Homo sapiens: one gene and its partners. Changing the gene in region 2 together with the main gene of any one other region gives a genetic interaction. Each region holds a gene or a part of one and is shown on either strand. Other genes may lie near its edges.

The links.
Region 1: changes in RB1 (region 2) and CTBP2 together harm fitness more than expected from each alone (negative genetic interaction), as found in Homo sapiens cells (one large-scale study listed by BioGRID).
Region 3: changes in RB1 (region 2) and ENO3 together harm fitness more than expected from each alone (negative genetic interaction), as found in Homo sapiens cells (one large-scale study listed by BioGRID).
Region 4: changes in RB1 (region 2) and VGLL3 together harm fitness more than expected from each alone (negative genetic interaction), as found in Homo sapiens cells (one large-scale study listed by BioGRID).
Region 5: changes in RB1 (region 2) and GART together harm fitness more than expected from each alone (negative genetic interaction), as found in Homo sapiens cells (one large-scale study listed by BioGRID).
Region 6: changes in RB1 (region 2) and TADA1 together harm fitness more than expected from each alone (negative genetic interaction), as found in Homo sapiens cells (one large-scale study listed by BioGRID).
Region 7: changes in RB1 (region 2) and RPS6KB1 together harm fitness more than expected from each alone (negative genetic interaction), as found in Homo sapiens cells (one large-scale study listed by BioGRID).

Annotation. Positions count from the first base shown.
Region 1 is NC_000010.11:124,986,691-124,989,563, forward strand, and holds part of CTBP2 (C-terminal-binding protein 2), read right to left. Parts: coding exon 2,828-2,873; 3' UTR 1-2,827. UniProt on the Homo sapiens protein: Corepressor targeting diverse transcription regulators. Functions in brown adipose tissue (BAT) differentiation. Isoform 2 probably acts as a scaffold for specialized synapses.
Region 2 is NC_000013.11:48,380,251-48,383,750, forward strand, and holds part of RB1 (retinoblastoma-associated protein), read left to right. Parts: intron 1-996; coding exon 997-1,193; coding exon of another isoform or gene 1,194-1,205; exon of another isoform or gene 1,206-3,500. UniProt on the Homo sapiens protein: Tumor suppressor that is a key regulator of the G1/S transition of the cell cycle. The hypophosphorylated form binds transcription regulators of the E2F family, preventing transcription of E2F-responsive genes.
Region 3 is NC_000017.11:4,949,831-4,953,918, reverse strand, and holds the start of ENO3 (beta-enolase), read right to left. Parts: upstream 2,801-4,088; 5' UTR 2,737-2,800; exon of another isoform or gene 2,695-2,736; intron 2,092-2,694; coding exon of another isoform or gene 2,090-2,091; coding exon 2,005-2,089; intron 1,125-2,004; coding exon 1,029-1,124; intron 869-1,028; coding exon 810-868; intron 648-809; coding exon 578-647; intron 208-577; coding exon 74-207; intron 1-73. UniProt on the Homo sapiens protein: Glycolytic enzyme that catalyzes the conversion of 2-phosphoglycerate to phosphoenolpyruvate. Appears to have a function in striated muscle development and regeneration.
Region 4 is NC_000003.12:86,967,150-86,970,649, forward strand, and holds part of VGLL3 (transcription cofactor vestigial-like protein 3), read right to left. Parts: intron 1,975-3,500; coding exon 1,441-1,974; intron 1-1,440. UniProt on the Homo sapiens protein: May act as a specific coactivator for the mammalian TEFs.
Region 5 is NC_000021.9:33,518,118-33,521,617, forward strand, and holds part of GART (trifunctional purine biosynthetic protein adenosine-3), read right to left. Parts: intron 2,899-3,500; coding exon 2,789-2,898; intron 2,446-2,788; coding exon 2,247-2,445; intron 1-2,246. UniProt on the Homo sapiens protein: Trifunctional enzyme that catalyzes three distinct reactions as part of the 'de novo' inosine monophosphate biosynthetic pathway.
Region 6 is NC_000001.11:166,873,465-166,877,662, forward strand, and holds the start of TADA1 (transcriptional adapter 1), read right to left. Parts: upstream 2,801-4,198; 5' UTR 2,770-2,800; coding exon 2,696-2,769; intron 1-2,695. UniProt on the Homo sapiens protein: Probably involved in transcriptional regulation.
Region 7 is NC_000017.11:59,899,621-59,903,120, forward strand, and holds part of RPS6KB1 (ribosomal protein S6 kinase beta-1), read left to right. Parts: intron 1-3,500. UniProt on the Homo sapiens protein: Serine/threonine-protein kinase that acts downstream of mTOR signaling in response to growth factors and nutrients to promote cell proliferation, cell growth and cell cycle progression.

The DNA of each region.
Region 1 (2,873 bases), on a different chromosome or scaffold from region 2:
AGTTTGTAGAAAATGTTAGCATTCTGACTACTTAGCATCTGTAGTAATTTCTCTATGTATAGGGATAATTTTTTAGTGGGCAGAGATCCTGTTCTAGTTGCCTGTTAAGCAAAATCTGCCCTCCCAATTGAAAAAGCCAAAGAGAATTGTTAGAGGGAAAAGCATGTAGCCATTGCAGTCTGCATTGCAGCCAGCGTTGTCCAGAGTACACGCTCAGCACTTAGCTTCTACTGTGTGTTGTGGTCTGGTGAGTGTTGTTTCCCCTGAGCGCTCTATTATTTATTTATTTATTATCAATCAGTGACCCTGACCACATAGTGTGATAGGTGCAGCATTCTTCCCTGTGGGAAAGAATTAAAGATGGTTCCATTTCCTAGGCTACAGACAGGAATGGGGCTCTAAATGGTTTTCATAGACTGGCTGTTAAAGGCCAAAAATTTTGGTAAATCAATGCTATATTATGCTCTTGAACTATTAAAACAGCCATAATTATTGTCCCAAGATAGAATATAGTCCTTTTTCAAAGATGATTATACGTGGCTAGGTGACAGACATTAATGACTGACTCTGGAGAGTAAGTCATACCTGCACTCTGTGGACTTGATGGTTCTTTTTCTAGAGCAAACAGAGCGTGGCATTTTGTTTTGACTTGTTCTTCCTTGGGGTCAAATTTATATATATATATATAAATTTTTGTTTGGGCGACCAAGATCTAATAATTAAAACCCAGGTGGACCATGGATTCAGACCTGCCTTTTTATGTTTTTGACTCTTAGGTTCATCGTGTCCCAGACTTCTTCACATATTCGTGAAGGTAAGATATTCTGTGTGCGCTTGGCCTCCTTTTCACGCATATTTCATTGCCTCTTTGATGAGTGGTTACGAAGACGTTAAACTACCTTTTTGTTCCCTGGGGTAATAGGTCAGTAACTATGAGCGCCGTCTCTCTCCATGTGAGCTTGTGTTAATAGACACTTTTATGGTAGAGTTGGGATGGGGCCACCACCTTAAAATGAGTGAGCAGACAAGGCCAGGCAAGCCAAAGGCTTTAAGACACCATGATTTTCTTGTTTTGTTTTAATTGGGAAGGGAAGTATAAGGAAGAGCTCAGAGGGAGTTTCATACCTGGAATTGTTGGACTTAATTGACACTTGCAAATACTTTTAGTATAAAGGTTTAATTCTATTTAAAAAGAAGATCCATTAAATCAAGCTCTTAACTCATGGGACTATTTGCAACACTTCTTTGTAAATATCATTTTGTTTGTTAGGTTATTGGCAAAACAGTTTCAAGGTTCACTTCCCTCCCTTGAACCAGGTCCAGGTCATTTTGCTTTGGGGTAGATTAAAGTCAGAACTCTAAAAGTTGAGCAACTTTGTTTTTTTTTGAATTGATTTAGCACTAACCCACCATTGCATCTTAAGGATGGCATGACGTGATAATGATGGACTTGTGTGAGGTTTTGATTTTTCAATTAAACTTTTTGTTATCACAGGTAATTAATTGTCAGCGGTCTTGAGTCTGGTTATGGAACCCTGTAGTAACAAGAGCTGGAAATTGGCTAATTGACAATGCAATTGCCTTAAACATCTCAAGTAGAGAACATTTACATTAGTGAGATGTACTTGAATTTCAGAACTTAACAAATTTTAATTACTTTTTATTGAAAACTGCACTGAACGCTAAATGTCCACCTTTACAATAAACAAATACAGTAACGGTAACTCACACTAAAACAAAACATACTTCTGATAGCCATTATTTTTCTGTTTGGGACAATTTTAAAGTTTTTCTTTTGTCACAAAAACAGGAATGTACCTATACAAAGGCTCAAAATAGGCCATCTTTTTAAACAAAAAGGCAATGATTCACAAAAGACTATGAATAGAACATGTAACTAGTTGATACAAATCTAATAGGATTTGTTAAAATCAGTCACATCTAATACATCTGAAGTGTTCTTGTATAAAATATCACGTGAAGAAAAGAAGACTTTATCAATGTCTAAAAAAGTGGGTTTGTTCATAGACAATCTGACAAGTTACCATAAAAAGTGTTTCCTGAGACATAAGGAAATGCAACATTATTCTTCTTGAACCCTTTTAGCTCAAGACTTTCCACTCAATAAAATAGCAGAGGATCTGAAACTGAGAAAATATATTTGAGTACAAACAGCTTGTGAAACTTAATACTTTTTTTTTTTTTTTTGCATCATCAGAGGGTTTTACTGAACTTACAACCGACTTGCCCGCTCAGTATGCAGTTCAGATGTGAGAGGCGCTTCTCTGTACAGCAGCCTGTACTGTCTTCAATCCTATGCGTGCAGGTGTCTACCACAGGCAAACAGTTTTCTCCCCATTTTGTAGTAATGTGATTTTCCTATTAGCAAAAAGAGGTCACCAGCCCCTGTAGACTTAAGGGACTCAAGTCACAGGATGGGGATTTCCTCTTAATATTTTTTATTTTGTTGTTTGAACTCTTGATGCAACATTGTAGAGCAGGGTGTTCAGGACCTGCTGTGCCCAAGGGACTGATAAAGGAAAAAGCTCTATTTATTCTTTTTGTGATTTGATGCACAGATGAAAAACTTAACACACAATAACAGAAGTTGGTCGTTAATAAATCACATCCTAGTCTTTCAGCGCTTCCGTAAGCAGACGACATCTTCAGTTTTCTAGCTCTTGTAGTTTCAACACTGCAACATCAATGATGCATATGTCCAGAATCAGTTACAAAGACCATCCGATTCTTTTTCTCTTAGTTCATCTATTTTTCACTGTCTCTTGGTCCCAAGTGTATCTGAGTGATTACCTTCTGGCATTCTCTGCTATTGCTCGTTGGGGTGCTCTCGATTGTCCCCGTGTTTTGTGGGC
Region 2 (3,500 bases):
ATTTTCATAAATAAACACTTTTGTTCAATTTAAAGTTAAAATGTGGTGTGTTTCTTTGGTCGGGGGAGAGGGATAGTGTGAGGTTAAGGAGAAGGAATGCTTATTTTAGATCACTATATACTGAAGAATGTAATTGGTCATTATAAGCCATTTAAGAGGCTTATTTGAGTTATTTGAGGCCATCTTGGGGATAATATTTCACTAGGCTTCTCTTCTGAGTATACTGGTATACTGAATCCAAAAAAGGTACTTTTTGAAATCCCTCCGAAGACCTTTGAGATTGTAGAGTGCCAAAGGAGTATTCAAGAGTGGCCTCTACTGATATGGAAGCACTGCTGTAACCTCCATGGTTATGAAACTAAAGATTGAAGCTAGAATCCACTGGATAAACAGAACAAAGGCCAATTACAATGTTTTTAAAAACATAAATGTATATCACTTTGCAAATTATGTTGCAAATGTTAAAAGAAAGTTTTGCTTGCAGAAACAAAAGGAACATTTGTATAAGGATGCAAAACACAGAAAAAGAGGAACTTTTAGTTTCCTTATTAGTAAACAGATAAGGAAAACTGTGAATCCTCATTTATAACCAAGAAATGCATATTTTAATGAGATACCATTTTGTAACTAATGAAATTAGCAGAATCTTGAAGAATCTGTCTATCCTCTTACCAAGGATTAATGAGAATTAAAATAGATATGCCAATGGCTGATAAGATACTAAACCTGTTCCTGATATAAGTTTAGGGTATTTAAATCTTTGAAAATTTGAGATCAGCTATAAGTCCTTTCTCTAGGAAAAACACAGATTTGCTTACACTCAAAATTGGAAGGCTATTTCCTATGAGTCCGTAGACTCCAAAATAAAAAATTCTGCTCTAAATAAAAATGGTTTAACCTTTCTACTGTTTTCTTTGTCTGATAATAACTTCCAAAAAAATACCTAGCTCAAGGGTTAATATTTCATAAATAGTTACTTTTTTTTTTCATTTTTAGGAAGTACATCTCAGAATCTTGATTCTGGAACAGATTTGTCTTTCCCATGGATTCTGAATGTGCTTAATTTAAAAGCCTTTGATTTTTACAAAGTGATCGAAAGTTTTATCAAAGCAGAAGGCAACTTGACAAGAGAAATGATAAAACATTTAGAACGATGTGAACATCGAATCATGGAATCCCTTGCATGGCTCTCAGTAAGTAGCTAAATAATTGAAGAAATTCATTCATGTGCATATGGCTAACAAATTATTGTTAGTGAGAGGTGTTTCTTAACATCTACCTCAAGAACATATAGGGAATTTAATGAATAATGTTATTTCAGTCTATAGCCCAAGGATCAAGTGGAATATTAGAATGGAGCTTTAATCGAGCACCCTAAACCATCTAATACAGCACAGTGATTTATTTAAGAATAGCTTTTCTTAAAACATGCCACTTTAAAACAAAACGGATTTTTTTTTTATACTTTAAGTTCTAGGGTACATGTGCACAACGTGCAGGTTTGTTACATATGTATACATGTGCCATATTGGTGTGCTGCACCCATTAACTTGTCATTTACATTAGATATATCTCCTAATGCTATCCCTCCCTCCTCTCCCTACCCCATGACAGGCCCCAGTGTGTGATGTTCCCCACCCTGTGTCCACGTGTTCTCATTGTTCATTTCCCACCTATGAGTGAGAACATGCAGTGTTTGGTTTTCTGTCTTGGCAATAGTTTGCTCAGAATGATGGTTTCCAGCTTCATCCATGTCCCTACAAAGGACATGAACTCATCCTTTTTTATGGCTGCATAGTATATATGTGCCACATATTCCATGGTATATATGTGCCACATTTTCTTACTCCAGTCTATTATTGTTGGACATTTGGGTTGCTTCCAAGTCTTTGCTATTGTGAATAGTGCCACAATAAACATACGTGTGCATGTGTCTTTATAGCAGCATGATTTATAATCCTTTGGGTATATACCCAGTAATGAGATGGCTGGGTCAAATGCTATTTTTGGTTTTAGATCCTTGAGGAATCGCCACACTGTTGAACTAGTTTACAGTCCCACCAACAGTGTAAAAGTGTTCCTATTTCTTCACATCCTCTCCAGCATCTGTTGTTTCCTGACTTTTTAATGATCGCCATTCTAACTGGTGTGAGATGGTATTTCATTGTGGTTTTGATTTGCATTTCTCTGATGGCCAGTGATGATGAGCATTTTTTCATGTGTCTTTTGGCTGCATAAATGTCTTCTTTTGAGAAGTGTCTGTTCATATCTTTCACCCACTTTTTGATGGGGTTGATTTTTTCTTGTAAATTTGTTTGAGTTCTTTGTAGATTCTGGATATTAGCCCTTTGTCAGATGGGTAGATTGTAAAAGTTTTCTCCCATTCTGTAGGTTGCCTGTTCACTCTGATCGTAGTTTCTTTTGCTGTGCAGAAGCTCTTTAGTTTAATTAGATCCCATTTGTCAATTTTGGCTTTTGTTGCTATTGCTTTTGGTGTTTTAGTCATGAAGTCCTTGCCCATGCCGATGTCCTGAATGGTATTGCCTAGGTTTTCTTCTAGGGTTTTTATGGTTTTAGGTCTAACATTTAAGTCTTTAATCCATCTTGAATTAATTTTTGTACAAGGTGTAAGGAAGGGATCCAGTTTCAGCTTTCTACATATGGCTGGCCAGTTTTCCCAGCACCATTTATTAAATAGGGAATCCTTTCTCCATTTCTTGTTTTTGTCAGGTTTGTCAAAGATCAGATGGTTGTAGATGTGTGGTATTATTTCTGAGGGCCCTGTTCTAAACCAAAACAGAATTCTTTAAAGTATTTAGATAATTTATTTAAAGTACAGTTGTTATATATTTGAAAATGCAAATGTCTGCTCTTAAATTGTGAGATTATGCTATTTAGATTATTAAAAAGTGCATTTTTTTCTTGTTAAATATAGTAGGATTCATTTTTTCCCATTATTAAAGTATAAAAATGTATACTATTGTTCAATTATAGGTATTGGTTCAATCAATATAGGGGCACAAATTATATTGTCTAGGATTCTCTTTATAGCATTATAACTATTGATAAGGCTTTTGTTTTAATAAAAGTGGCAACTTGAGGTTATGCTCTTCAAATCAACATAGTTGGATAATACTTTGTGAATCATCAGTTTTGTAAATTAATGGTTTCTTTTGAAACTGTGTTGCATGCTAAGTATATATCTTTTAATTTGTATCAGTATATAGAAGTGGTAATTAAAAAATTAAGACTTTAGGTATGCCATAATCCTAATTTGCACATGTAACCTTAGTTTTAATTTCCTTACGTTTTGAATTTTTAATGACTAAGCGATAATTTATTTCTTAGTGTTTTCTTGTATTGCCATATAGACAGAGTGAATAGAGGAGAGAAACATGGGAAATTGATAGAAGAATGTTACACTCCTATTATTGAATTTCATAACTACTTATGGAATGAATTTACACTTGATAAGGAGTACTTAGAAGAAAACTTTCTGA
Region 3 (4,088 bases), on a different chromosome or scaffold from region 2:
GGGGGCCAACCCTGGCTGGGCGGGGTTGGCTCTGTCCAGGCGAGATCTGGGAAGGGCGGGTAGCTGCACTCACTGGCACTGGGAGTATGAGGTCAGGGTTCCCAGCGAGATCTGCGATGTGGCGGTACAGGGGGACCCCCTTCTCAGCTGCTCCCGCCTTACACACGGCCAAGGACACGCCCAGGATGGCATTGGCCCCAAACTTGGCTGGAAGGAGGCAAGCGGGAAGAAAGGATGAGAGCTTCTGCAGGGTTTGGGGTGGCTACTCCAGGAAGACGCCAGAGCTCCAAACCACTGAGCATGAAGAATTGGTTAACAGATCTCTCCCCAACAGCCTGAGTAGCCCTGGGAACCCCCACCCCGGGGGAATGTGTCAGCTGCATGTCTGTGTCCACAGCCCGGCCCAGGCCTGGCAGAAGGCAGGCATAGGAAATGCCTGTGGAATGAACACAAATCCATCCAGCTGCGGTGTGACCCAAAATGGGGGACCCAGAAATAACCCATCAGGCCTCACCCCATGGCCTCTCGCCATCTCTCCCACACCTCATCCCTTCCCCACCGCTAGCCCTTCACTCACACTTATTCTCGGTCCCATCTAGCTCAATCATAAATTTGTCAACTTTTTCTTGATCCACAACGCTTAGTTTCTGGAAGGGTGAGTTTGAGAAGGGAGAGCAGAGGTCAGATTTCTCAGAAGTCAGGGCACATGCAGGGGAAGGATAAGGGAAAATGTTTCGGGAGAGGCCTGTCTGGGCTGAGGGAGCAGGGGCATGGGGAGGAGGCTGCAGCGAGCGGGCTTCCCCACTTGCCTTTTGCAGCAGAGCAGGGCCCAGAGTATTGTTGATGTTCTCCACAGCCTTCAGGACTCCTAGACAGGCCAGAGGATGAGTTTTGGAGCTCAATCAACTGGGCCCCTTTCTGTGGACCCCAGCTCCTCAAGAGCCTTGGGGGTTCCAGTCCTCTACCCATTGTGCACCCATGTCCTAAAGCCGCCCACACAGGCTCCTTCTGCGCTGGTGTCTCCTCACCTTTCCCCAGGTAGCGGCCTTTGTCTCCGTCTCTTAGTTCCAGAGCCTCATAGATACCCGTGGAAGCCCCACTGGGCACAGCTGCTCGGAATCGGCCTGGGACAGGAGGAATTGGAAGATCACAGGGATGGCTGGGCGCGGTGGCCCATGCCTGTAATCCCAGCACTTTGAGAGGCCTAGGCAGGTGGATCACTTGAGATCAGGAGTTCAAGACCAGCCTGGCTAACATGGCGAAACCGTCTCTGCTAAAAATACAAAAATTAGCTGAGGCCGGGCGCGGTGGCTCACGCCTGTAATCCCAGCACTTTGGGAGGCCAAGGCGGGCGGATCACGAGATCAGGAGATCGAGACAATCCTGGCTGACACCGTGAAACCCCATCTCTACTAAAAATACAAAAAATTAGCTGTAGTCCCAGCTACTCGGGAGGCTGAGGCAGGAGAATGGCGTGAACCCGGGAGGCGGAGCTTGCAGTGAGCCTAGATCGCGCCACTGCACTCCAGCCTGGGCGACAGAGTGAGACTCCATCTCAAAAAAAAAAAAAAAAAATTAGCTGGGCGTGATGGCACAGGCCTGTAATCCCAGCTACTTGGGAGGCTGAGGCACAAGAATCACTTAAACCCGGGAGGCAGAGGTTGCAGTGAGCTGAGATTGCACCACTGCACTCCAGCCCGGGCCACAGAGCGAGACTCCATCTCAAAACAAAACAAAACAAAAAAAAGGACCTCACAGGGAGTCTCTCTACCTCTCAAAGGGCTGAGGTGTCCTCTCTGAGCTCAGGGACAGGAGGCAGTGCAGAGAGAGACTCCTGCTTCTCCTAGCTTCCAGCTCTGGTTCCACGTTGGAAGAAGGGGGCTTGGGAAGAAGTCTGGGAAAGGGAACCCGAGAGAAAGGAGAGGATATGGCACAGAACTGGGGGGCAAAGGCCAAAGGGTTGGGGTCTTCGGAGGCGAGCCTATCCAATGGGCCTTGTGTTACCCTTGGCCGTGTGCAGGTCCACCTCCACCGTGGGGTTGCCCCTGGAGTCCAAGATTTCCCGGGCAAAGATTTTCTGCATGGCCATGGCTGCAGGACAGGAGGTGTGAGTGAGTGTAGACAGTTGATCTCTTAAGGAACCAGAAATCCCTTGCCCTTTAAGATTCTTCCCCACTCCAAGAAGGCAGGTGCTGGAGCTAAAAATACCCTACAAAAAGGTCACAGACCAAAGAGGCAGGCGCAGCCCCCTCCCCCACTCAGAACAGCTCTTATTCCACCCTCCCATCCTAAGAATCCAGGGGCCTCTTATCTATAGCTCCTGGGATGCCACCGCTCACCAAGCCCCCACCTCCCCCAAGCCTCCACTTAGGCCTTCTCCTTCCACCCCTCTGGTCAAGCAGTCTGTTCTCCATGGCTGGTGGCCTTCAAATCCTTTCTGGTTCTCATTTTCCTGCTCCGAAATCTCCTTGGGCCCCCAATTCCCTATCAGGTTCCAGCTCTAGCTGCCCTTTTCTATCCATCCCTGCTGCCCTCCTCACAGCCTCCTTTCCCTAGATCCTTCGGTGTTCCCAGAGTTTGTCCCATCTGCTTGCTCCAGCCGCCCCTTCCCCCAGCTTTTTCAAGCATCTCCAGTCCCAGGAGGAAAAAAAGCAGAAATGTCCCCCACTTCCTCCAAGCCAATACCATGCTCACCCTTTACTACCTCCACCCCCAGGGCTGGAAGATTCACCCGACCTGGGATGTCTTCGCTGGAGGTTTGGATGGAGCTCCGAGTCTAGGTGGCAGCTGGGACAGTGTCAGCTCACCCCCTCTCAGGCTGCGCATTTATCCCTGAGCCACTCGGTCCCCAGCCAGCCCCGCCTCTCTTTCTCTCCATCCTCCCCCCTTCACACTGGGCTGGCAGCCAAGTGCCCACTACAGCCTGAAGCAGAAGCCTCTGGCCCTGGGCACCTGCCCCCTTACCAAAGGTCAACTACTATCCCCCACTTTCTGTCTCCCAATAACAGTCCCTGTTCTAATTCCACCCTTTGGGAGGAGCAAGGGAGGGGCTACAGATGAGGGGTCTCCCCCCACCCCAGGATTACATTCCCCTTTTGCAAACGTCAAGAGGAATGAGTGACCTTTAGGAAAGGCCAGGGGTAACCTGAGCCCTGCAAGGCTGGGGAGGGGGCCTGGAAGAGGGGCTGCAAGATTGACGTCCACACATGCTCAGATCGCTGGGCGGGCCTCTGTCCTCAGTGGGGGAAAGGACGGGACCCCCCACCCCAGAAGGCGAGAGGGTCTCACCTCTTAGGGTCCTCATAACGGCCATTCTCGGCGCCGCCCCATCCTACCCTCTCCAGGCCAGCCAGCGCCGGGATGAGTTAGGGGACAGGAAACGAATTTAGACAGGCCCTTTCGGCTGGCAAGGCGCCCGACTGATAACGCTGGGACAGCACTTGTCGCCCGGCGTGGGGACTGTCGGTCAGAGCCCCTTTCCCCATCGACTGTGGGCGCTCAGCGCACGGCCCCAGCCCATCAATGAATGGGGCTGAATCAACAGTGAACAAAAATGAATGGACCGAGGACGGGTGGCCTTTTGTGAGCTTCTGCACGCCTGGGGCTCTTCCGGCGCCCCACTTGTAGCACTGCGGGGAGGTAGGTCTCTGCCCTCGGTAGAGATCTCCACTTTGCCGGCTCTGGGGCCAGTGCGGGGTCTGCCCCGAGCTCCTCTGCAGCCATACCAGCCGACCGGCGGGGGACACACGGCGCCTCGGCCCGACTCGGAGGCCCTTCCCGTCGGCGCCGGGGCAGCGCGCGCCCGGTGACTCACCCCCGCCGCCCTCTCCCCACCCCTGCTCCCCGCCCCGCCGGCCCGCGCGGCCTCCCAGCCCCCACCCCAGGCCACCTGCCCCGCCACCCGTCCAGTCTCCCCTCTCGCCCCGCCCCCTCATCTCAGGCCGCTCCTCCCGGGATTTTTCCACCCTGGGGTAGGGGTGCGGTGGGCCAGGGGTCAGGAGATGGCGGGCGGGGAGCGCCGCCACGTGCCCGGGTGCGGCCCCGCCCGAGCCCGCCAGTGACTCAGCCGCGCGGCTGTCGAGGAACAC
Region 4 (3,500 bases), on a different chromosome or scaffold from region 2:
TGCCTGCTAAGAGCATTGTTGCTGTTGCCACATAAGTACCACATAAAACAGAGAAGAGCCTCCTGAGACCTGCTGTCCATGAAGGCAGCTGCCAAATTGGGAACTCTAATAAGATCTGGCCTCAGGCATCAAATGACTCCCAAGTTGTCTTTATTTTGTTAGTATGTGGCAAAGAAAGAAGGGAAGCCTGTGCCTGCTGTGCCATCACACACGCATCTGCAGAGGGATTACCAAGTCCCCTGATACTTTGTTTAGAAAAGCAGCTTGAACCCAGTCTCAATAGGAAGCTGAAATGTGTTAGATGGGGCAATGATCAACAATGGAAAGCTCAGTGGAGAAAAGTTAACCAAAATAAGAACGTTCCACTCATGTCACGGGAGAGGTAAAATAAAGCTGAGCATTTATGACTCTGGGGAATTATTTGTTGTGAACCAGCACATGATTAAGGGTTCTCCACACTACAGAAAAGCTAAGGAAGGAAAGAATTTCTTTAAGCTTTTGGAAAGAGAGTTCCAATGTGCCACAAAATGTTCTAGCAAAAGAACCTGGGACCCACTACTTTGGACTCCAGGGATACAATGATCAATTTGTCGTTTTGGGCTCTGATGCCTATGATTTCATGAGCTCAGAACTATGAATACTATTAATATGACCAGTCTGGTCCAAAAATCAAGCTCAGACATTTGACACAGAACCTTCAGAACTATTGAATTCCAGACAGGAGATGAATGCTCTGTGAAGAAATCATTTCCTTACTATTAGTTTCTAAATCTGTTGAATATAAATTTTATAGTAGTCTTTTAAGTCTTGTATTATTTAAATCAGAGACAGGGAGAGAGGAGAGGAACAAAGGAGGAGGAATAAGAGAAAAGAAGGAAAGGCAAAGGAGGATAAAGTCAGGGAACGGAGGGCAGAGGAGGGGAGAGGAGGAAGAAAATGAAGAAAAAAATCATTCTTTTAAAATATGTTCCCTAATTCTTGTTCAAAAGGCTACACTATAGACTATATTTCAGAAACCAGTTTTTATAAGTCATACATAAGGCCTAACAAAAAAAGAAAGGAAAGAAAAATTACTGAAGTGCACCATTTCTGAATTCTGTTAGGCCTGACACATGGTATAATGCTCAGAGACATGGGAGATTTAAATAATGGGCTCATTTCTTTTTAAACAGAAGGTACCAGAGATTCCATTTCAAAGGAACAGACTACTAACCTAAGATATGAGAGAAAAGCTCTGAGACCTTTCTCAGGCTGGATTTCATGAGCTAGTCATACCAGTTTCTGCAGGAATGCAGAAATTATTGCAAAATGGCTAGGTTCCATAAACATGTTGGTAAAGTTTAACTTTACAGATAAGAAAAAATAATTTCAAAACAAATTTCCACCCTTTCTTAAATTAACTTTATCTTGTTATAGGAAGAAAGAAATCCAGCAGCTTACCTGTATCGAATCCCACGCTGGGCACTATGTCTACTGTTCCATGAAAGGCTCCAGCCCATGCTGAGGTAGCAGAGGTGACTGTAGTTGGTTCTGTCTTTGTGATGTCACACTGGGGAGCAGGAATCCTGGCCGCATGCACTGAAGGCATCAGCAGAGGCCCATAGGATGGATCCAGGGCAGAGCCAGCAGGAGGGTGGTGATGGTGATGATGGTGGCGGTGGCGGTGGTGCATGTGGGCATGAGGGTGGTGGTGCCGCATGTACACGTCATGCATATGGCTGTAGGATGGGCTCACCTGAGATGTCAAAGGATAAGGCCAGGACTCAGACACAGCAGGGGGAGGGGCTGGGCCAGTCTGATGCAGGTTGTGTCCCGGCCAAGGACTGGGATCAGCTGCAGAAAAGGTGCCAGGGGGTCCAGTGACCTGGAAGTCAGGATGAACTCCCCCCAAACAAGGTGCAGGTGGGGGCTGGTAAGAGCTGGTCCAAAAGGAAGTTGGGAAACTATTCCGCTGGCTTGAGAGAGCTGAGCTGTCTGAGAAGACAGAAAATAAAAAACATTATTAACATAAGACTCAGTTTTGGGATAGACTTGCCTCTAATTGTCCACTCTAATTGTCCAATAATATTTTACAAGCAGTCAAATTAGCATGCACTCTTATTCTCCCCAAACAGGGGTGAATTGATACCAGGTTGGCCTCTGGGCTCGCAAGCCAATGGGTCCATGTGCAAGATCCAAAGTGTTAAATGAGCCTCCCTCCATTTGCTTTGCTTGGCTTATGCCGTCACAGTCTGTGCTAAGGTTTGCAATTTGGGGATTGAAAAATTTCATTTCCTTCTGAGTACCTTGCAGCCATTAGGCCTAAGAGGAGGTCATATCTACCCACTTCACTGGTAAAGAAATCTTATGCCATAAATGAGGTTTGTATAAGTTGGACATGATCATTTTTACCAACTTCTAAATGCAAATACAATTTTCATTTAAATGAAACATTTTAATGCCGAAGGTAACAATGGAAGTAAGATTACAATTACTTATACTCACTAACACTCATTTTCCATTAAGAAGAGTGTATTCCAACCTCATTTTATTTATTTATTTATTTATTTATTTATTTATTTATTTATTTATTTTCTGTGGAGATCTGGGAGTCTCTAGACCGAGAATAAAAATGGTCAATATTTAATGACAGTATCAAATGCCCAACATTTTTCCAGGGGCTTTTCATGGATAATCTCATAGGAGTTTCATTCCAGGCCTATGGGGTAGTTATTGTTATTATTCCCATGATGAGAAAATCCCAGTAGAGAAGAAGCCTAAGGCTTAAGATGGCAAGAATGGGACTAGGCTTTGAAGCCAGGTGGCCTAAATGGCCAATGGCTGGGCCTCTTCATAAAGTGCCACAAGAGGGCGCAATTGTAACTGTGAACCTCAACATCTCGAATTTGGTGAAGATCCTATGGAAATGATGAGTGGAGGAAATTCAAGTAGAAGTCATGGGTTTGAGGAAGTATTTTGGGGAGAGGGAAATATCAAAGAATAGCACTTAGAGACGAATAAGAAAGAAAACGATCCCCTAACTCTTCATCAGTTCAATTTCCTACTCAATCGTAATAACACATTTATACACGACCTACTATGTATCAAACATAGGCGTCAGGGATGACCAAATGGACATCATTTTTAGTCACAATCTGCAGAAGGATAGATAAGTAAAAACAGACATGTGCAAGGTGACACGGTAGGTATTCTCCCAACAGGAAGCACAGAGAGCCCCGACCCAGCTTAGAGAGTGATAAGTGGAAGCTGACAGACTGAGTGGGGGCTAGCCCTGGGAAGTAAGCTTTAGGCAAATGGATCAGCACATAAGAAAAGGCCATATATTACACACACGCACACACACACACACACACACACACACACACACACACATATGACAGCAGCAGCATTTGAAAGACAAAAAGAGTTCCATAGGCAGAAGGTGGCAACAGAAAAATTGAGACTATTGAAATGAGGACCAAGATGGGTGTAGACTTGCTGGCCATGGTACTGAATGTAAA
Region 5 (3,500 bases), on a different chromosome or scaffold from region 2:
GGTGGTTGAAAGGCAATTTTTGTTTGTTTCAAACTTTATTCCCAGGCTTCTTTAGCTTAATTAGCTACAAAGAATAAATTGTGGGCTGGGCATCGTGGCTCACGCCTGTAATCCCAGCACTTTGGGAGGCCGAGGCAGGTGGATCAGGTCAGGAGTTCGAGACTATCCCGGCCAACATGGCGAAACTCTGTCTCTACTAAAAACACAAAAATTAACCAGGTGTGGTGGCTTATGCCTGTAATCCCAGCTACTTGGGAGGATGAGGCAGGAGAATTGCTTGAACCTGGGAGGTGGGGGTTGCAGCGAGCCGAGATTGTGCCACTGCACTCCAGCCTGGGTCACAGAGCAAGACTCCATCTCAAAAAGAAAAAAAAAAAAGAAGAAATTGTGTATAAGCAAAAACTGAAAAGAGCTGCAGTGTCCAACAGGAATGGGGCTTAAAATATTAGAGATCTAAATTTTATCAGATCCATAAACAATTTCAGAAAGCAGTCATAATGTAAAATAGCAGCTCCTAGTTACTTCATATTTTTTCTTCTTCAGAAGTTGACTCAATTCAGTTTGCCTCATTCTTAATAGCCTCATCAAAACTCCTTACAAGATCTAGAACTTCATCACCATCCCCTCCATTAGCAAGCAGTGCTTTTCCATCCACAGACTATTTGGGCAGAGCTTCAGTCGGTCTCCTTAAACTAGTCAGATTGTCTGCACCAAGCTGGTTTAAGATGCTGGTAGCATTTCTATCAGCTGCGTTGTCTCAGCATGGCCTGTAATGGTGAAAGTGTTCACTGCCCCAGAGAAATGCTACCAGCATTTTAGGTTGTTAAAGTGGATCTCTGGTCTTCATTTGTAAACATACTCACCCCTTCAATACCAGAGATATTGTTTACCCTTAACTTCTTAAGGAGAACTGAAGTTTTTATCATCTGCTGTAGCTGAACCACCTTCTTTCTGTTTCTTTTCCATCATTACGCAATTGTGCCTGCAATTTGGTTGTTTCTTTCATCTTGTCAGCGTGGAAAAGGGTCATGTGGAGGACTAGGGTTGGTGCTCAAGGGGTCCTGGGTAGACCAGCTGAGATTAGATGCACACATGTGCAGATGCAAGATGGCACAATTTCTGGTTTAAATGGTCATATAAAAGAGGCAGTTTCTGGCCGGGCACGGTGGCTCATGCCTGTAATCCCAGCACTTTGGGAGGCCGAGGCAGGCAGATCACGAGATCAGGAGATTGAGACCATCCTGGCTAACACGGTGAAACCCCATCTCTACTGAAAAATAGAAAAAATTAGCCGGGTGTGGTGGCGGGCACCTGTAGTCCCAGCTACTCGGGAGGCTGAGGCAGGAGAATGGTGTGAACCCAGGAGGCAGAGCTTGCAGTGAGCCAAGATTGCGCCACTGCACTCCAGACTGCGTGACAGAGCAAGACTCTGTTTAAAAAAAAAAAAAAAAAAAGAGGCAGTGTCTTTGGGAGGCTGTGATGGGAAGATAGCTTGAGCCCAGCAATTCAAGACCAGCCTGGGCAACATGGCAAAACCCTATCTCTACAAAAAGTACAAAAATTAGCTGGGTTGGTGACACATGCCTGTAGTTCCCAACTACTTGGGAGGCTGAAGCAGGAGGATCCCTTGAACCCAGGAGGTCAAGGCTGCAGTGAGCTGTGATTGAACCACTGCACTCCAACCTGGGTGACAGAGAGAGATTCCCTTTTTTTTTTTTTTAAATTAAAAAAAGAGGTTATTTTGTTCCTTGATCAACCTACAGATTCATTTTGCTCAAACATTTCATGTATAAAGATACTTCTATAAAACTTGGGCGTATATTATTATTTATGTCACTCTATGGGAAAATTTGGCTTTAGTTAAGATCCGGAATGCCAGGAACCCATCTGCCTGTACCGTGGGGTCAATAAGGAGGAAATAACTCCTAGACCTGTTTGTTGAGGAGGCTACTGAGACTGATGGGGATGTTAAAAGGTGGCCAAAAATTGGGAAGAAAGATAAGGCCTGCCTGACAGTTTGGGAGTACGGGTCTAGAGGACAAACCCCTGAGGAGGGCTTTGAAGGTAGCAGGCTCTAAATTTAATTCAGGTAGTTTTACCTATATTTCATTTGTGCATATCACATATATGCATCTTGTGATATACAGTCTCTCTTGCTAGCTACATTGGCACTGATCACATTTTTACATAGGGCTAAAACACAAAAAGAAGAATGACATGTTATTGATTAAAATGGCTGATCATACCAAGGAGAGCACATCCAGCTTTTCCACAAGCTTTAGCAATTCCAGCAACAACAGCTTCAGTTACACTGAGGTCAAGTTTTCCACAGGAAAAGTAATCAAGGAAGAAGAGGGGCTCTGCTCCTTGTGCCAGAATATCATTAACACACATTGCTACCAAATCTTGACCAATGGTATCATGTTTATTGCATAGCTGGGCAATCTATGTAAGAACAATATAAACATCCACATTAGGGAATAAGTTCAAAATTGTATCTTATCCATTTGATTAGCTGCTCTTAACACCTAAAAACAAAAGAACACGAAATTCTGACAAGCTACTTGGTCTAAAAGCATCCCCTTTTATCCTCTAAAGTACCCTTCCATCCAAATATAATCTAAATAATAATTTGTTATTAGAAATGTGCAGATATTTTAGCCATTTTACATGGTTATTTGGCATGGTCCTTTTTAGCTCATATATGTCAAGAGAAGAAAAATACATATTTGATATAAATTTCCTCATCTTTCCTAAAAGGCCTTTATTCACAAAGGTGTCTGATTACCTTTAGTTTAGTTCCAACGCCATCTGTTCCAGAGGCCAGAAGGGGATCTTTGAAACCAGCTGCTTTTAAATCAAAAAGACCAGCAAAACCTCCAAGATCAACTTTACAGCCTGTTGGAGAGGAAATTAATTACTTGCTACATTTTAATAGATTAAACATGTAATTATTTAAATGTCTACTAGTTTAAAAAAACCAGTATATTTAGCGGCCTGTGAGATGTACTTCTGGAAGAAATAGATGATTGGAACAGCTGTTCTCAGAGATGACATAATCAAATCAACTGGGAGAATGTAATCATTTAATAGATTAACATGTAACATGTTAATAGGTTAAACATGTATATACATACCACTTGTTCATAAGAATGGCTGAAACAAGAGATGCCCTTCCTGAGTATGAGAGATTGCACCATGTGCTCAAAGAATTGATTAAGAAAGTAATTAAGGCTGGGCGTGGTGGCTCACCCCTGTAATCCCAGCACTTTGGGAGGCCGAGGCGGGTGGATCACAAGGTCAGGAGATCGAGACCATCCTGGTTAACACAGTGAAACCCCGTCTCTACTAAAAATACAAAAAAATTAGCTGGGCGTGGTGGCGGGCACCTGTAGTCCCAGCTACTCGGGAGGCTGAGGCAGGAGAATGGCGTGAATGCAGGAGGCAGAGCTTGCAGCTAGCCGAAATGGCACCACTGCACTCCAGCCTGGGCGACAGAG
Region 6 (4,198 bases), on a different chromosome or scaffold from region 2:
AATAGCAAATAACTCATATCCAGCCTCCGTGCATAACCCTGTATGTTTTGCCTACCACCGAGGACCACACTTAAATAGGTTGTGCAAACCAAAGCAAACTGCTCATGGAGGAAATATAAGAAATGACTGTACAGTACAAGAGTATTACTGACTATTTAACCCAGAGGTACTTTTTAAGGAGAAGGGAAAAGAACAATGAGAGAATGGAAAAACAAATTTAGAACTATACGTTACCATTAACTGTTTCTGGCATAAAAATCTCTTTTGATTGCATTTTAGTGGGGATTCACACTCCAGATGCACCAAATTTAGCTTCAGCATCAGTATTTGACCAACATCAGACAGTCGGCTTTGGCCTTTAAAAACTAAATAAGGAATGCTAACTTCAAAAACACTTTTGGCAGCCCTGAACCTGTAACTGATGAGTATGGGATGACAGAGGTCACCATTGCATCTAATCAGGGTTAAAGGCAATCATACACAAGCCAGGTCCTTCAGATTTATTTTGGTATGTAAACGTTTGCTTTCAAATATTTGTAAGCATTCTAGATGGAACAGAGTGAAATGCCCCTTATGTGCTTAAAAATGTAAATTTTGGCTGGGCGCGGTGGCTCACGTCGGTAATCCCAGCACTTTGGGAGGCCAAGGCGGGTGGCTCACGAGGTCAGGAGTTCAAGACCAGCCTGGCCAAGATGGTGAAACCCCATCTCTACTAAAAATACAAAAATTAGCCGGGCGTGGTGGCAGGTGCCTGTAATCCCAGCTACTCAGGAGGCTGAGGCAGAGAAGTGCTTGAACCCAGGAGGTGGAGGCTGCAGTGAGCGGAGATCATGCCACTGCACCCCAGCCTGGACGACAGAGCAAGACTCCATCTCAAAAAAAAAAAAGGTAAATTTTATCAGTCGGTATTACAAAAGTAAAAAGCTACAGTAATTAGGGTGAAAGCTGTCAATTTTACCTATTAAAATAAGTAAGAATATTTAATTCAATAAGCACAGTGAACATCAATATCGAAAGACAATTTTCGGTGGTACACTATAGTCGGGTGTGGTGGCTCATGCCTGTAATCCCAGAACTTTGGGAGGCCAATGCGGGAGGACTGCTTGAGGCCAGGATTTGAGATCAGCCTGGGCAACACAGCAAGACTTTGTCTCTGAAAAAAAAAACTTTAGCCAGGATTAGCGGGGCGTGCCTACAGTCCCAGTTATAGGCTCACAGCAGGGGAGGATCTCTTGAGCTCAGGAGATCAAGGTTGCTGTGAACTGTGTGATCAGGCCACTGTACTTCGGCCTCTGCCACAGAGCAAGACCCCAACCCCCAAACACAAAGTGAAACATATCTCTGGGCGTAAATAAATGTTCACCAAAAATTAAATAATTATGCTAAAATAACAGTTTAGATTTTAATTTTAATCTTTTTATAGTTTCCATTATTATCTTGTTAGGATGAAAAGTAGACTGTCAACTCTGCCACCCCAAAATTTCACATGAAGGAAAAACTCCAAAATTCATGTATGACATCCAACCTAAGTAATTTCAATCCAGTAATAATAAAGAACAGAGAAGGATGAAAAGAAAGTATTGGAGAAAAATTAAGTATTCCCAAATTGCTCCTCCACCAACATCATTTAAAAGTATGCATCCACTGAGTAATGCAAATGTGTAGAATACCAGAGAAGCCATCTAGCAGCAACAACACAGGCACTGTAATTTTAAACGTTTATATTTGCTTCCTATATTTTTGAAAAATAAAGTTGTAATAACAACGTTTTGAAAATTTCCAAACTCTTCCTTGTATCCCAGAGGTTCCTTTTTTGCTCTTTGGCTTTGGCTTTGACTGGATACTGATTTTACCCTTGGCCATTCTGCACCTAACCTGACTGTGCACTAGGTCCCCTGCCATAACCTGGATGAAGGTCTGGCTGAGCGTCTCTGGGATCCTTTACAGCCCCTCTAATGCATCAGTCGGGAATCAAAAGCGTGGGTCCCAACTCTGACAGTGACTTTTGAAGAGTTACTTGTCCGCACTAGGTCTCAGTCTTCTCATCTGTCAAATGGGAATAACAACTGTACCTATCTCACATCTGTTGTAAGGATTAGATAATATATTTAGAGAGCTTAAAATGTTTAAAATGTCCGCTACTGCTATCATCACTATAATTGTAGTGTTCAATGACTGTGATTTCACCAGAGGGTCCGTCTGCCTTACGAAATTGCTGTCAAAAGAGCTTACCAATAATCCGTAGCAGATCACACCAGCTCAACAGGCCTCCACCTCCAGGAAGCCCTCCAGGGGCGGGCCGCCCTGCGCTATGCCCTCTGGCTGGACGCGTAGGGCTCCGGCTCACTCCGCCCAAGTCAGCCTCCCGCATCCCGCACGCCCGCGCTGGGGCCCGCACCTGCTCAGCAGGCCCTTGGGTGCGAAGTGCGCTTCTCCCGCCCCACCCAGGGCAGACAGTCCCGAGCAACGGCGCCCGCCGATGTCTCCCGGGCGCCCAGGAGGCCCGGTCTCTCCAGGGCGGTGAGTTCAGGTGGCCCGCCCCGCCCCGGCCGGAGAAACCCCGAAGCCCCGCCGCCGCGGACTCCAGGCTGCACAGGCCCCCGGGCGACGCGGGCGTCTCCGGGGCGGGCTGGCAGCCCGAGGCCAGGAGAGCACCCGCGTGTTGGCCTGGACGCTGTGCTAGGGCAGCTCTTACTGTTTCACGTTGTCCCCCAGGGCCTCGCTTAAGTTCTTCTTGGCCGCCTCCAGCTCGCTCACAAAGGTCGCCATTGCTCCGCGTGTCTCAGCCCGACCGCAGACCGCCCGGCCACCGCGATCAACAACCCAAAAACCAACTCGGCGGAAGGCCTTGGCTCTGGAAGCTAAGCCGGCCGCCGTCAGTCCCGCCCCCAATCTCTCAGAAGTCGTTTGTTTGGTTTTCGGCTCCGCCCGCCTTTTCGCAGGGAAGGTGCCCGGCCAAACTCTGCTCTCTTCCTCCCGCCCCTCGAGTCACGTGATCCGCTTCACCTTGTCGCGCGCCCATCCTAAACCCGCGCGCCCCGCCTCGGCTGCAACGTTGCTGACAGGCTGGCGTGTCCCAAGCTCTTTCATTCTGTTACCGCTGGGGCAATTCCGAATTCAGCCTGCTGTTCTTCTGCCTGGAGGAGTACCTTACCCCTCCATTTAAAAAAGTAAATGCAGTATCAGTTTTACTCTTTCCTTGCCTTATTTTTCCCCGAGCACTAACCGTCTCATATGACATTTAGTTGATTTATCTTGTAAATGTTATGGCTCGAGGACAGGAGTTGTGTTTTATTCACTGTTACCCGCAATTCTCTAGAGCAGCGCCTGGCACATAGTGGATGCTTAATAAGTATTTGAGTAAATGAGGTAACTATGTAAAATTTGGAAAATACACAGAAAGATAAAGATAAAAAGAAGGAAAAAGTGTTTTACCACTCCCGGACAAACACTTAACTGAGAGAGATTTCTCCTTCACTTCGCACACTCCCATGACTTAAAATATTCTATGTTCAATTTTGCACGTTTTTAAACTTAAGGATTTATCTGTAGTATTACATTGTCTTTAGAATAATTTTAATGACAACATATTAAATACCCCCACAGATAGAAGGTACACAACTTGTTTCCCAATTGTTAGACTGTGTCCATTTCTTCTCTATTAAAAAGCAATACTGTAATATTGCTTTTGAAGCATATAGCATAATGAAGCAAAACTTCTTTATGCATAAAACTTTTCCTCCTTTAGGATTATTACTTTAGCATAGAGTCCCACACATAGAATTACTGGATCAAATGATGGGAATATTTATAAATGCCTTGGTGTATATTGTCAAATTGCCTCCCAAAGTTTTTTAAATAATCCTAGATAGCTTTTAGATCTTGTGTAATTTCTCCAAAGATGTCCCCTTAAGTTCATTCATTCAACTTCCTCACTGCCCAACCTAAACCCACAAGCCCTGTCCTGGCTGCAATGCCAGCCGGGCACCTTCTCTTCACTTGAATTCATACAGTGAGCTCCTATTATGTGTCTGGAACTCTTTGAGTACTGGAGATACACAGGTGAAAGGAGATACAAAGGTCAGGCAAAGTCTTCCTCTCTGTGTCAAAACTCTGGGTAAGTTTTGACACATTTAAAAAATATCCACTTAAGTTTTCCATGGCTCCCCACGCTCTGCTGAACAAATTCCAGACTCCA
Region 7 (3,500 bases), on a different chromosome or scaffold from region 2:
AGCAACAAAGACAAAAAAAACCTTTAACCATGACCACCCCCATATCCCACACATAAAAGAAACTGTATCCAGTTAAAATGGTGAGAATTGGTTTTTTCCCCCTTGATACTGCCCCATCTCTTTGCCTGGGTATAATCATGAAGTGTACATTCCTGGTATTACATGTTATCGTGATTTGGTCACACCATGAGTGAGTTATGACTAAAATTTTGTGTTTTGGGGGCATTTGAACATTTATTCTATAAGAATACTATCAGTTTTTGGCTGGGTATGATAGCTCGTGCCTGTAATCCCAGAACTTTGGGAAGCTAAGGTGGAAGGATCATTTGAGGCCAAGAGTTCGAGACCAACCTGGCCAACAAAACAAGACCCTATCTGTACAAAAAATTAAAAAAATAAATAGTGGGCATAGTAGCACACAGCACACGCCTGGCACTAGTGACTCCAGAGGCTGAGAAGAGATGATCACTGGAGCCCAGGAGTTTGAGGATGCAATGAGCTATTATCCTACTACAGCACTCCAGCCTGGGTGACAGAAACCTAATTGCTAAACACACACACACACACACACACACACACACACACACACACACACACACACACACACACACCCCTATGTGTTTTTGTTGTGTATGTTGGCTGTGTACTGGTAGTTTTGAAGAAAGATATATTCACTTTAATATCTTAACTACTCTAAAGTTTTGACATGATTGCTTAAAGACTTGTAATGTTTTAGAGTCTATTTTCTTTTTCTTTTTTTTTGAGATGGAGTCTCACTCTTGTCATCCAGCCTGGAGTGCAATGGCGCGATCTTGGCTCACTGCAACCTCCACCTCCTGGGTTCAAGCGATTCTCTTTCCTCAGCCTCCTGAGTAGCTAGGATTACAAGTGCCCGCCACCAGGCCTGGCTAATTTTTGTATTTTTAGTAGAGGCGGGGTTTCTCCATGTTGGCCAGGCTGGTCTCGAACTCCCAATCTCAGGTGATCCGCCTGCCTTGGCCCCAAAGTGCTGGGATTACAGGCGTGAGCCACGCGCCTGGCCTGGAGTCTATTTTAAATTAATTAGTATCCTTTCGTGTAAACTGAGAGTTCATAATCAGATTAGATTGATTTTAAAGCTATATATTATAATGTCAGTAACTGAAATTCTGCTGCCAAGTTTTTTGTTGTTTTTTGTTTATACAATTCAGTGACTTTGAGTATATTTACAGAGTTGTGCAGCCATCACCAAAATTAGGTTTTAGAAATTTTTACCACTCGGCCGGGCGCAGTGGCTCAGGCCTGTAATCTCAGTACTTTGGGAGGCCAAGGCAGATGGATCACTTGAAGTTGGGAGTTCAAGACTAGCCTGGCCAACATGGTAAAATCCTGTCTCTACTAATAATACAAAAATACCCAGGCGTGGTGGTGCATGCCTGTAATCCCAGCTACTTGGGAGACTGAGGCAGGAGAATCACTTGAACTTGGGAGGTGGAGTTTCCCATGAGCCGAGATTGCACCACTGCATTCCAGCCTGGGCAACAGAGTGAGACCTTGCATTTTTTTTTGAGACGGAGTCTCGCTCTGTTGCCCAGGCTGGAGTACAGTGGCGCGATCTCGGCTCACTGCAAGCTCCGCCTCCCAGGTTCACGCCATTCTCCTGCCTCAGCCTCCCGAGTAGCTGGGACTACAGGTGCCCGCCACCACGCCCGGCTAATGTTTTGTATTTTTAGTAGAGACGGGGTTTCACCGTGTTAGCCAGGATGGTCTCGATCTCCTGACCTTGCAATCCGCCCGCCTCAGCCTCCTAAAGTGCTGGGATTACAGGCGTGAGCCACCGCGCCTGGCCGAGACTCCATCTTAAAAAAAAAAAAAGGAAATTTTTATCACCCTATAAAGAAATTTTGGGGCTGGGCATGGTGGCTTACGCCTGTAATCCCAGTACTTTGGGAGGCCAAGGCAGATGGAGCGCATGAGCCTAGGAGTTTGAAATCAGCCTGGGCAGCATAACAGCACCCTGTCTCTGAAAAAAAAAAAAAAAAAAAAAGAAAAAAAAAGAAACAGAGTTTTGGCCAATTTAGTTACTTCTGATTCTCACCCTCAGCCCCAGGCAACTAACCTATTTCTCATCTCTATAGATTTGGCTTTTCTAGGCCCAGTGTGGCTCATACCTGTGATCCCAACACTTTGGGAGGCCGAGGCAGGAGGATCACTTGAGACTAGCCTGGGCAACATAGTGAGACCCGTGTCTCTACGAAAAATAGAAAAAAATTATCCGTCTTGGTGGTGTGCGGCTGTAGTCTCAGCTGCTTGGAAGGCTGAGGTTGGAGGATCGCTTGAGTCTCCAAGGTTGAGTTTGCCGTGATCCTGCCACTGCACTTCAACCTGCGCAACAGAATGAGAACCTGTCTCTAAAAAAAAAAAAAAAAAAAGCTTTTTCTGGACATTCCATATAAATGGAATCATATAGTGTATGACCTTTTATATTTGGTGGCTTTCACTTTTTTTTTTTTTTTTTTTTTTGAGATGGAGTCTCACTCTATCACCTAGGCTGGAGTGCAGTGGTGTGATCTCTGCTCACTGCAACCTCTGCCTCCTGGGTTCAAGTAATTTTCCTGCCTCACCCTCCTGAGTAGCTGGGACCACAGGTGTGCGCCACCACACCTGGCTAATTTTTGTATTTTTAGTAGAGATGGGGTTTTGCCATGTTAGCCAGGCTGGTCTCAAACTCCTGACCTCAAGTGATCCGCCTGCCTTGGCCTCTCAAAGTGCTGGGATTACAGGCGTGAGCCACAGCATAAAGTTTTTGAAGATCATTTATGTTGTAACATGTATCAGTACTTCATTTCTTTTTAGGGCCAAATAGTTATTCTGTTTTATGGCTACAGTGCATTTTGTTTATCCATTTACCGGTTGATGTTCATTTGAGTTATTCATTCAGATGTTCAACTGAATTGTGAATAAAGCATTTTTTGTTTCTTTTTTTTTTTTTTTTGGAGATAGGGTCTCACTCCGTTGCCCATGCTGTAGTGCAGTGGCGTGAAAAAGCTCGCTGCAGCTTCACCCTCCTGGGCTGAAGTAATTCTTCTGCCTCAGTCTCTCATGTAGCTGGGACCACAGGCACGTGCCACCATTCCCAGCTAATTTTTTGATTTGTTGCAGAGATGGGGGTCTCGTGATTTTGTCCCGGTTGGTTTTAAACTCCTGGCCTCAAGCAATTCTTCTGCCTCTGCCTCCCAAAGTGTTAGGATTATAGGCATGAGCCACCTCCTCGCCTGGCCTGAATAAACCTTTTAGAAGGCTGGGTGTGGGGGCTCATGCCTATAATCCTAGCACTGTGGGAGGCTGAGGCAGGTGGATCGCTGGAGTCCAGGAATTCCAGACCGGCCTGGGCAACGTGATGAAACCTGTTCTCTACAAAAAATGAGCCGATGCTGGGCATGGTGGCCTGTATTCCCAGCACTTTGGGAGGCCGAGCTGGGTGGATCATGAAGTCAAGAGTTTAAGACCAGTCTGGCCAA